2 separate regions of the Homo sapiens genome follow, and region 1 is linked to region 2. Evidence: fine-mapped expression QTL. Tissue or cell type: visceral fat. Region 2 holds a variant in brackets; the other region holds the start of a gene. All regions are shown on one strand. Distances are from middle to middle. Region 1 holds the start of TTYH1 (tweety family member 1). Region 2 has its middle 22 kb from the start of TTYH1.

What was found. PIP is the estimated chance that this variant, and not a neighbour inherited with it, causes the effect. A credible set is the group of variants that fine-mapping cannot tell apart.
Region 1: it holds the start of TTYH1, and the variant in region 2 is the best candidate, but not a certain one, in a credible set for the expression of TTYH1 in visceral fat (GTEx, PIP 0.66).

The regions. Positions count from the first base shown.
Region 1 is chr19:54,413,194-54,418,344 of GRCh38, forward strand. TTYH1 (tweety family member 1) reads left to right here and starts at 2,271. Exons shown (of 14, transcript NM_020659.4): 1 at 2,271-2,485. The coding sequence starts at 2,360. LOC124904770 (LIM domain-containing protein A-like) reads left to right here and starts at 3,909. Exons shown (of 1, transcript XM_047439797.1): 1 at 3,909-5,151. The coding sequence starts at 3,943. The coding sequence ends at 5,148.
Region 2 is chr19:54,391,000-54,396,150 of GRCh38, forward strand. No RefSeq gene overlaps it. Among named protein-coding and RNA genes, the nearest start is that of TTYH1, 22 kb to the right of the region's middle. RefSeq lists an enhancer at 450-997. The variant A/G (reference allele first, on the strand shown) is at 2,790.

The DNA.
Region 1 (5,151 bases), 22 kb after region 2:
AGAGGGACTCTAAGATGAAAAACTACTTGCCTAGAGTCACTTAATACACCTCTAACCGCTCATCTCGGGATCTTCTTCATCCCCAAGCCCCATGTAGGCCACCTGGTTGGGAATGGTGGAGAACATGACTCTAGCCAGAACCAGAGAAAGCTGAAGAAGACCTAGGGTAGTGATGAGAGAGGGTGTGTGTGTGTGTGTGTGTGTGTGTGTGTGTGTGTGTGTGTGAGAGAGAGAGAGAGAGACAGAGATAAGGCGCCTATTCTCACTCTCCCATTTCATCATCAATACCTTCACCAATATCACTATCCTCCTCCTCACCGTCATCATCATCGTCCTCATCACCATCATCACCACCATCATCATCATCATTATCATCATGACATGTCAACATAATCTTGTCTTCACCACCATCATCATCATCACTATCATCATCATCATATCCTCATCTTCACCATCACCATCACCACCACCACCACCATCACCACCACCACCACCATCACCACCGTCACCACCATCACCATCACCAACATCATCACCACCATCACCACCATCACCAGCATCATCACCACCATCACCACCATCACCACCACCACCATCACCACATCACCATCACCACCATCACCACCACCATCACCAACATCATCACCACCATCACCACCACCATCACCAACATCATCACCACCATCACCACCATCACCAACATCATCACCACCATCACCACCATCACCATCACCAACATCATCACCACCATCACCAGCATCATCACCACCATCACCACCATCACCATCACCAACATCATCACCACCATCACCACCACCACCATCACCAACATCATCACCACCATCACCAACATCACCACCACCATCACCACCACCACCACCATCACCAACATCATCACCATCACCACCATCATCACCACCACCATCACCACCATCACCACCACCACCATCGCCACCACCATCACCATCACCAACATCATCACCACCATCACCATCATCACCACCGTCACCACCATCACCACCACCATCATCATCATAATTATCATCATGACATGTCAACATAATCATGTCTTCACCATCATCATCATCATCACCATCACCATCATCAACACCACCACCACCATCATCATCACCATCACCACCATCACCATCATCATGACATCATATCACCAACATAATCACCACCATCATCGTCATCACCACCACCTCCGCTACCACCAGCATTCCTCTTTTCCCTAGCCCTTTCTTGCCAATCTGGAGCAAAATATGGAAATGGGTTAAGTGGAGAACTAATCTCCCTTTCTTCCACTCATCCCAATTCCCACAAGAGAGGCCACGTGTGTGGTTTCCAGATGGCAAAGTCTCACCCTGCCCTACAGCAAGAGGGGACCCCTGGGGCCAGATTCCTGAGCACCTAGTTTTGGCTGCAATAGTGACAGTCTGGGTGATGATGTCAGGGTGGCCAGGTCCCCTCCCAGGGTTGGCACTTCCCCATCTATCGGTGTGGCATCGGAGGATTCCAGTGAGATGTAACATGGGGAGTGGCTGGAAAAATACTCTGTAACTGTATGGCGAATGCCAAGGGGCAGGGGTCCTTGTATACACCGAAGTAATCCCGAGTCAGTTTACAGGATGGGAAGGGCCCCTATATAGATGACCAGGGTCCTTATGCAGGTAGAAGGGGTCCTTATGCAGCATGAAGGCTTGCTACACAGGCGTGTGGATTTTTCCATACATTCTGGAGTAGCCTCTACACATAGGAGTGTTTGTGCTTAGAAGCTGTGTCCTTATGCAGGCTAGGAATAAAAGTGGGACGGAGATTTTACACAAATACGGGCATCTTTTACAGGTGGGAGCACTTTCGTACACAGAGGACTTCTTATCCATGGAATTGGCCGTTCTTTGTAAAACGCTCTGTACTTACTAGCAACCTTTACACAGACATGAAGTTTCTCCATAAGGATAAAGGGATCATTATGTTTTAGGTGAAATAACAGTATGAGTGGCCTCGTATGGACAAGGAGGGCTGATTTCAATCGCGATGCAAGCCAGCTGTCCGGATGCCGCCGACGCCAGCAGCGCGGTACCTGCGCGGGCAGCAGGTGGGAGCCGCGACCGGGGTGGGGCGCGGAGCGCTGGGGGCCTCCCGACTCCCGCAGTCCCCGCCGCGACCACCAGGGGCAGCACCGTCCCCGCCCGGCCCGCGCCTCCCTCCCCCCAATCTCCGCCCCCCACCCCCTGCCTCCCCCCCGCTCCCGCTCCCCTGAGCCCAGCCAGACCCCGCGCCGCCCGCGCCCCGCTCGACTCCGGAGGCTCCCGCAGCCCCGGCGTCCGCCCCGCTGCCCCCTCCCCCGGGGGCCATGGGGGCGCCCCCGGGCTACCGGCCCTCAGCTTGGGTGCATCTCCTCCACCAGCTGCCCCGCGCCGACTTCCAGCTCCGCCCGGTGCCCAGCGTTTTCGCGCCCCAAGAGCAGGAATACCAGCAGGTGGGACCGGGCGCCAGGGCCTGGGGGCCAGGGCTGGGGGCCGGAGCTCCTGGGTCCCGAGGGAGAAGGGGGCTGGGTCACAGATTTCCTGAGCTCCGCCGGAGGCTGGGGGCCGGCCCGGACTTTGGGGTTTCGGAGGGAGGAGGAGCCTGGGGGCGCCCATGCCTGGAGGTTCTCCTGGGACGCGCGCTGGGGGTCCAGACCTCGAGCTCTCTAAATAAGGGAAGGCTGGGGACCTGCACCCCTGAGTTCATGGAGAGGAGGGGAGGGGGGCCCGGATTCCCGGGTGTCTGATACCTGCCTGGGAAGCCGGCCTCCAGGGTCATCGGGAGGGTAGGTCTACTCTTCCTGCCCTAAAAGATGACCCTGCCCCACAGGATCAGAGCAGGTGAATATGTCCCAGATAAGGTGGGACCCAGGAGACAGCGGACCTGATAACGGTGGCGGGGAAAACGCTGGCTGCTGCGGTGCTGGGATGGGATTGAGAGTCTGAAATGGGGAAGGGGGCTTCAGGGGCTGAGGACCAGGGCTGGAAAATGAAGGGGCTCTGGGAGAGGAAGCTTCTTGCCCGTCCCAAGAAAGAAGGGGTGGTCAGGGCGCTGCAGGGGTGAGGGCCGAGATGAGGCTGGGTTTGGGGAGCCTCGGGATGACAGACCCGGGTCCCGAGGGTGGGGCCGGTGTGGGAACCTCACAGAAGCCGGTGTCCCTGGGGAAGGGGCCCGGCTCGGGGCAGCTCCAATGGGCGAAAGAGCTGTCCCCTGACCCAGTTTAATTCAAGTCCTTGACTTCGAGATTAATGAGGAGAAAGGCTTGGCTGAGCTGGGGACGGGTGGGGGTGCTGGGAGTCCCGATGTGGCCCCAGGACGGGTCCTGGCCCTGCTGATGGGGCCTGAGCCCCTGGGCTCCGTCTTGGGTTGCTCCTGGGAGAAGGGGGCTGGGATTGGAGAGCTCAGGGGGCGTGGAGGGGGTCCCAGAAAAGCGCGGAGGGGATGAGTGCTGTGTTCTGAGCTATTTGGGTCACGGCTGGCACAGCCCTGAGCAGCTCTTCCCCGCCTGCTCCTCGCCGCCCCCTCTCCCCACACACGGGGACCGCCGTCCCCTCGCCCACAGCCTCGCGGTTACACAACGGCCACCTCCAACAACGCCGCTCCACCGGCTCCGGCCTCGGCCCAGACTCACGCCCGCTCTGGCCCGGAGACCTCCCGAAGCCGCACGCGGGGATCCGCGGCCCCAGTCACCGCCAGAGGCACGGGTTTGGGGGAGCCTCACTCCGCCCCCACGGTCGGGGGTCAGGGTCAGGGTGGCAGGGATGCGCGGGCAGAGCCCCACAGCCGAGGAGGGCAAGGGGGACCCCTGCAGGGACGCGACCACCGTGGGTACAGCTGCAGACACAGCCAGGGCCTCAGGGACACTGGCCCGGGGGAGGCACACAGCCACACGCACACACTCACTGGCATATGCACAGCACACACACACGTCCACTTACTCCCATTACACACTCACATGCACACACATATGCACAGGCACACCCAGACACGCCCACTTATTCCAACACACTCACATGCACACACATATGCACAGGCACACTCAGACACACCCACTTACTCCCATTACACACTCACATGCACACTCACATGCACACACTCAGACACGCCCACTTACTTTCATTACACACATGCACACACACATATGCACAGGTACACACACACGCCCACCTACTCTCATTACACACTCACATATGCACACACACATACCCATTTACTACTCCCGCTATGCACTCACACCCACATACAACACACGCATATAGACACATGCATACACTCACATGGATATACCCACTTACACATACACAATCACACATATGCACACGCACATTGCGCACAGTGACTCACAACACACACATACACATGTATAAGCATTTACTCCCATATACAAGCACACACTGCACTTATATATATATGCTTACACACTCATGCATGCACCGTCACATACACGTTTATACTCCCATACACACACACACGTACATTCCATTCACATCTACACACACATGCACACACATATTGACTATAGCATTCATGTGCACACACACACTCACATGCAGTCACGCATCCACACACACACTCATCCACACTGTTACACACACACAACCGGACCCACTCACAGGCCCAAGGAACTGTGCCCAGAACACACAAATGCCCACAGATGTTCTCATTTGCAGACAGCAGTGCACCCAGGAGACACACTCAGGTGCCCCCTCATCTCATGGAGACAGCCCAAAGATAAAAACATCCAGTCTCAACCAGAAACACAAACACTGCACACACTTGGGACACACACACACACACACACTGTGCCACTGTGTGTGTGTATGTGTGTGGACAAAGGCAGAAACACCGTGGTTTAGGGGAAACAGCCTTGGCAAGTCCAGAGGTGTGACTCTGATCCCAATGTTGTCCCTCCATGCTCCGGGGCTCAGTGCAAACCCCCTGGGCCACTGTGGGCCTCTGGGACCGCACAGGTCAGCTGTGAAATCCCCGCCACGTGGAGAGCCCTGTTATTCTGCAAGGCTCTGCCCACCGCAGAACGTTTCCGCGGCCTGCCTGTCTTCCGGGCCTTGGCTCTCTCCGCCTCTCTGTCCTTGTGTGTCTCTCCCGTCTCCATAGTGT
Region 2 (5,151 bases):
CGCTTCTTACGGGAACTCCTTTCAGGCATTTCCATCTCCACGCTACACATGGGGAAATAGAGGCTCACAGAGGAGAAAGGACGTGGTTCAGGTCACACCTGTCCCTGGTCCTCCAGGCTGAGGAGCAGAGAGACCACCCACCTTAGTGCTGGAAGGGTTTAACACATAGCTTGGGCTCCCTCTTGTGGCCACAGTGGAGAAACTCCCTGCTTAGTTCATTTTTATTTTTTCCATCTGGCATTCATTTTTTTCATTCAGTAAGTATTTGTTGGTCCTGTCCTGTGTGCCAGACACTGTTTGAGGCTCTAGAGGTCCACCAATATAGAAAACAAACACCCTTTCCATGGAAGAGCTTATATTCTTGCAGAAGGAGAGGGGCAGTAACCCACAGGCATTATACAGTCACAGTCAGCTAGAAGGTGAGAGTGATTTGGATAAATGAGAAAGTGCAGCGGTGGTCCAGGGGGTCTGGAGGGTGCAAAGCTCAGCAGGGGGAATAGTGTGGCAGTTGCAGACAGAGGGGTAGGAAGAGGGAAGTGGCAGGAAGAGAATGCAGAGGGGTGAGGGTTGGGGCCACAGGTCCTGTGTAGAGCCCTGTTGGTCACCATGATCACCCTGAGTGAGCTGGGAAGTAACACAAATGACTCCAAATAGAAGCGCCTTCATGGAGCCTTCTTCTTCCCAGACTTCAACTAGAAACCTGAGCTGCCTGTCACAGCAGGGGACGTGTCATCCCATTAGACTTCAAACGTCCTCAGCAATTCCCTGCCCCCTTCTTTCTAGGAGTCAGGATTCCTCAGCCTTGCTCTAGAACTGCATCTGGTGACCCCTAGAAACCTGTCCTGGAAGCCTTACAAGGCTCTTCACACTCACAGTTTGTGATATGACCCCAGAGTTGTGCAGTGCACAACCTACACAGCTGGACACGATGGGCCTGGCACTCTTCCTCTGTGCTCCCACTGCACTCTGTGCTGACTATGTCATTCCACTGGGTGGTGCCATGTCAACTTCTCTCCTCTCCTCTCAATATCCTGTAAGGATAAGATAGGATCAAAGTTCTACCCACGTCCCTGGTACTCAGAAGAGGAGCTGAAACATTGGCGACCACTCATTAGCACTCTACTTAACAAAACAAATTGCCCAGGTAGTTATGATTAGATTTCTATAAAAGGCTGAATAATTACAGAAAGGCTCTAGAAACTAGTGTATAATTATGTACAGGCGCTGGCAGTGTGTAGAGTCATGGAAATCAGCTAAGGAATCGCGGTGCAGTCTCAGGAACCAGCTGGATAATTGCACCAGGAGCTCCCAAAACCAGCTGGATAATTATAGTGGAGTCCCTGGAACTCAGCGGGTAATTACCATGTACTCATGGAATCAGCAGTAATAATAGAAGGGTCCCAAATGCAGACACTAGGGAAAGTCTGGAGACACTTTTGATTGTCACAACCCAGAGGAGAGGGGGATGCTTCTGGGTGGTGGGGGGTGGAGGCGGGGGATGCACAGGACAGCTCCTCCCCCAAGGAATAACCTAGCCCCGAAAGTCAACAGTGTTACCCAGAAAAAAACAGGGTTCCTTTGCCTGGTGAGGAGCAAACAACTCTCCCGAGAATGCAGGTGATGTGGTTTGGCTCTGTGTCCCCACCCAAATCTCACCTGGTATTGTAATGATCCCCACGTGTCGATGGGGGGCAGTGACTCACGCCTGTAATCCAAGCACTTTGGGAGGTTGAGGCAGGCAGATCATGAGGTCAGAAGATCGAGACCATCCTGGATAACACAGTGAAACCCGTCTCTACTAAAAATACAAAAAATTAGCCGAGCGTGGTGGCGGGCAGCTGTAGTCCCAGCTACTCGGGAGGCTGAGGCAGGAGAATTACTTGAACCTGGGAGGTGGAGGTTGCAGTGAGCTGAGATCACGCCGTTGCACTCCAGCCTGGGTGACAGAGCGAGACTCCGTCTCAAAATAATAATAATAATAATCCCCACGTGTCATGGGAGGGACCTGTGGGAGGCGACTGAATCACGGGAGCAGGTTTTTCCCATTCTGTTCTCGTGATAGTGAATAAGTCTCACGAGATCTGATGGTTTTATAAATGGGAGCGCCCCTGCACGCTCTTTCTTGCCTGCTGCCATGTAAGACGTGACTTTGCTCCTCCTTCATCTTCCGCCATGATTGTTAGCCCTCCCCAGCCAAGTGGAACTATGAGCCCATTAAACTTCTTTCCTTTGTAAATGAACCAGTCTCGGGTATGTCTTTATTAGCAGCATGAGAACAAACTAATACAGAGGTTTTGATCAAGAAGAGTTTTATGACTTGACACAGCTAAGGAAGGCACTGGGTGTATTCTTCAAAGCAGTGTCTCCCTGAGGAAAAGGGACAGGAGGGCTCTATGGGGTGAGGGAGCAGGGAGAGGGCGCGTCGTTGTATGTGGAGGAGGGTCCCAGTCACGCAGATGCAGCGAGTCGTCATACCAGCACACGGGTCGCATGTTACGGTAACGAGACTACAGCTCCTCCCGGGATGGAGACTTGAGCGCAGCAGTGCAGAAAGTTCACTCGGGTTCATCTCTAAGTTGCCAGGGCCCGTCAGAGGCTGGTTCCAACCAACGAGTGGCCGCATTCCACACAGGGTTTGGAGAAAAACAGGCTGCAGGGCAGAAGGCTGTGAAACAGGCTGATTGCTCAAGTTGATTAAATTCCTATAATCCCTGGAGACCCTCCCTGTCTCCATACAGTAGTGCTTGGGTTGAGAAATTTTCTTTAAAAGACTATTTTTAGCCGGGCGC[A/G]GTGGCTCACGCCTGTAATCCCAGCACTTTGGGAGGCCGAGGCGGATGGATCACGAGGTCAGGAGATCGAGACCATCCTGGCTAACACGGGGAGACCCCGTCTCTACTAAAAACACACAGAAAAATTAGCCGGGCGTGGTGGCGGGCGCCTGCAGTCCCAGCTACTGGGGAGGCTGAGGCAGGAGAATGGTGTGAACCCGGGAGGTGGAGCTTGCAGTGAGCTGAGATCGCGCCACTGCACCCCAGCCTGGGCGACAGAGCGAGACTCCGTCTCAAAAAAAATAAAATAAAATAAGAATAAGAAGAAGAAAGAAGAAAGAAGAAGAAGAGGAAGAGGAAGAGGAAGAAGAGGAAGAGGAGGAAGAGGAAGAAAAATGTTTTAAAAAGACTATTTTTAGAGCAGGTTCAGGTTCATAGTAAAATGAGGGGAAGGTAGAGATTTTCCATGTACTCCCTACGCCGACACCTACATAGCTTCCCCCATTACCAGCGTTCCCTACCAGAGCGGTATTTTTATTACAACTGATGAGCCTGCATTGACACATTGTAATCACCCAAAGTCATATTAGGGCTCGCTCAGTCTTCCTGTTGCACATCCTATGAGTTCAGGCAAATGTCTAATGGCAGGCACCCACCGTCACAGTGTTAGACAGAGGAGAGCCATTGCCCTAAAATTCCTCTGTGCACCACCTATTCATCCTTCCTTCGCCCAACCCCTGGCAGCTCTGATCTTTTCCTGTCTCCATACTTTGCCTTTTCCAGAATGTCATATTGTTGGAATCAGACAATGCGTAGCCTTTTCAGATGGGATTCTACCACTTGGTAATATGCATTTAAGGTTCCTCTGTGTCTTTTCATGGCTTGAGAGCTCATTTCTATCTATCTATCTATTTATTTATTTATTTATTTATTTACTTATTTACTTATTTATTTATTTTTGAGATAGAGTCTCGCTCTGCTGCCCAGGCTGGAGTGCGGTGGCTGTGATCTCGGCTCACTGCAAGCTCCGTCTCCCAGGTTCAAGCGATTCTCCTGCCTCAGCCTCCCGAGCAGCTGGGATTATAGGCACCTGCCCCCACGCCCGGCTAATTTTTGTATTTTTAGTAGATGGGGTTTCACCATGTTGGTCAGGCTGGTCTCGAACTCCTGACTTTAGATGATCCACCCGCCTCGATCTCCCAAAGTGCTGGGATTATAGGCGTGAGCCACCATGCCTGGCATCATTTCTTTTTCTTTTCTTTTCTTTTCTTTTTTTTTTTTTTTTTGTTGTTGTTGTTGTTGTTGTTGAGGCAAAGTTTCACTCTTGTCGCCCAGGCTGGAGTGCAGTGGCACGATCTCAGCTCCCTGCAACTTCCGCCTCCCGGTTTCAAGTGATTTTCCTGCCTCAGCCTCCCAAGTAGCTGGGATTACAGGCGCCTGCCACCACGCCTGGTTAATTTTTGTATTTTTAGTAGAGATGGGTTTCCCCATGTTGGCCAGGCTGGTCTTGAACTCCTGACCCTGTGATCTGTGGGCCTTGGCCTCCCAAAGTGCTGGGATTACAGATGTGAGCCACCGTGACTGGCTAATTTTTGTGTTTTTAGTAGAGATGGGGTTTCGCCATGTTGGCTAGGCTGGTCTCGAACTCCTGACCTTGTGATCCGCCCGCTTCGGCCTCCCAAAGTGCTGGGATTACAGGCATGAGCCACTAGAGTCTCTTTGTGAAAAGGAATGGAAGGATGTGGTGTGATGCAGCACGCATCACCAGGTCCCTGTCATAAATTTGCTTTTGTGGCCGGGCGCGGTGGCTCACGCCTGTAATCCCAGCACTTTGGGAGGCTGAGGCAGGCGGATCCCCTGAGGTCAGGAGATCGAGACCAGCCTAGCCAACATGGCGAAACCCCATCTCTACTAAAAATACAAAAAATTAGCCGGGCGTGGTGGCAGGCACCTGTAGTCCCAGCCACTCGGGAGGCTGAGGCAGGAGAATAGTTTGAACCCGGGAGGCGGAACTTGCAGTGAGCCGAGATTGCTGCACTCCAGCCTGAGCGACAGAGCGAGACTCTGTCTCAAAACAAAACAAAAAAAGCTTACCCTCCATGATGCAGCAATCCCACTACTGGGTATATGCTCAAAGAAACTGAAACCAGTGTGTGGAAGAGATGTCTGCACCCCTATGTGTATTGCAGAGTTATTCACAATAGCCAACATATGGAATCACCTAAGTCTCCATCAGTGGACAATGGGTAAAGGAAATGTATATATACACAGTGGAAATACTATCCAGCCTTAGAAAGGAAGGAAACCCTGTCATTTACAGTATGGATGTAATTGTCAACCTTCAGGACATCATGCCACATGAAATAAGCCAGATACAGAAAGA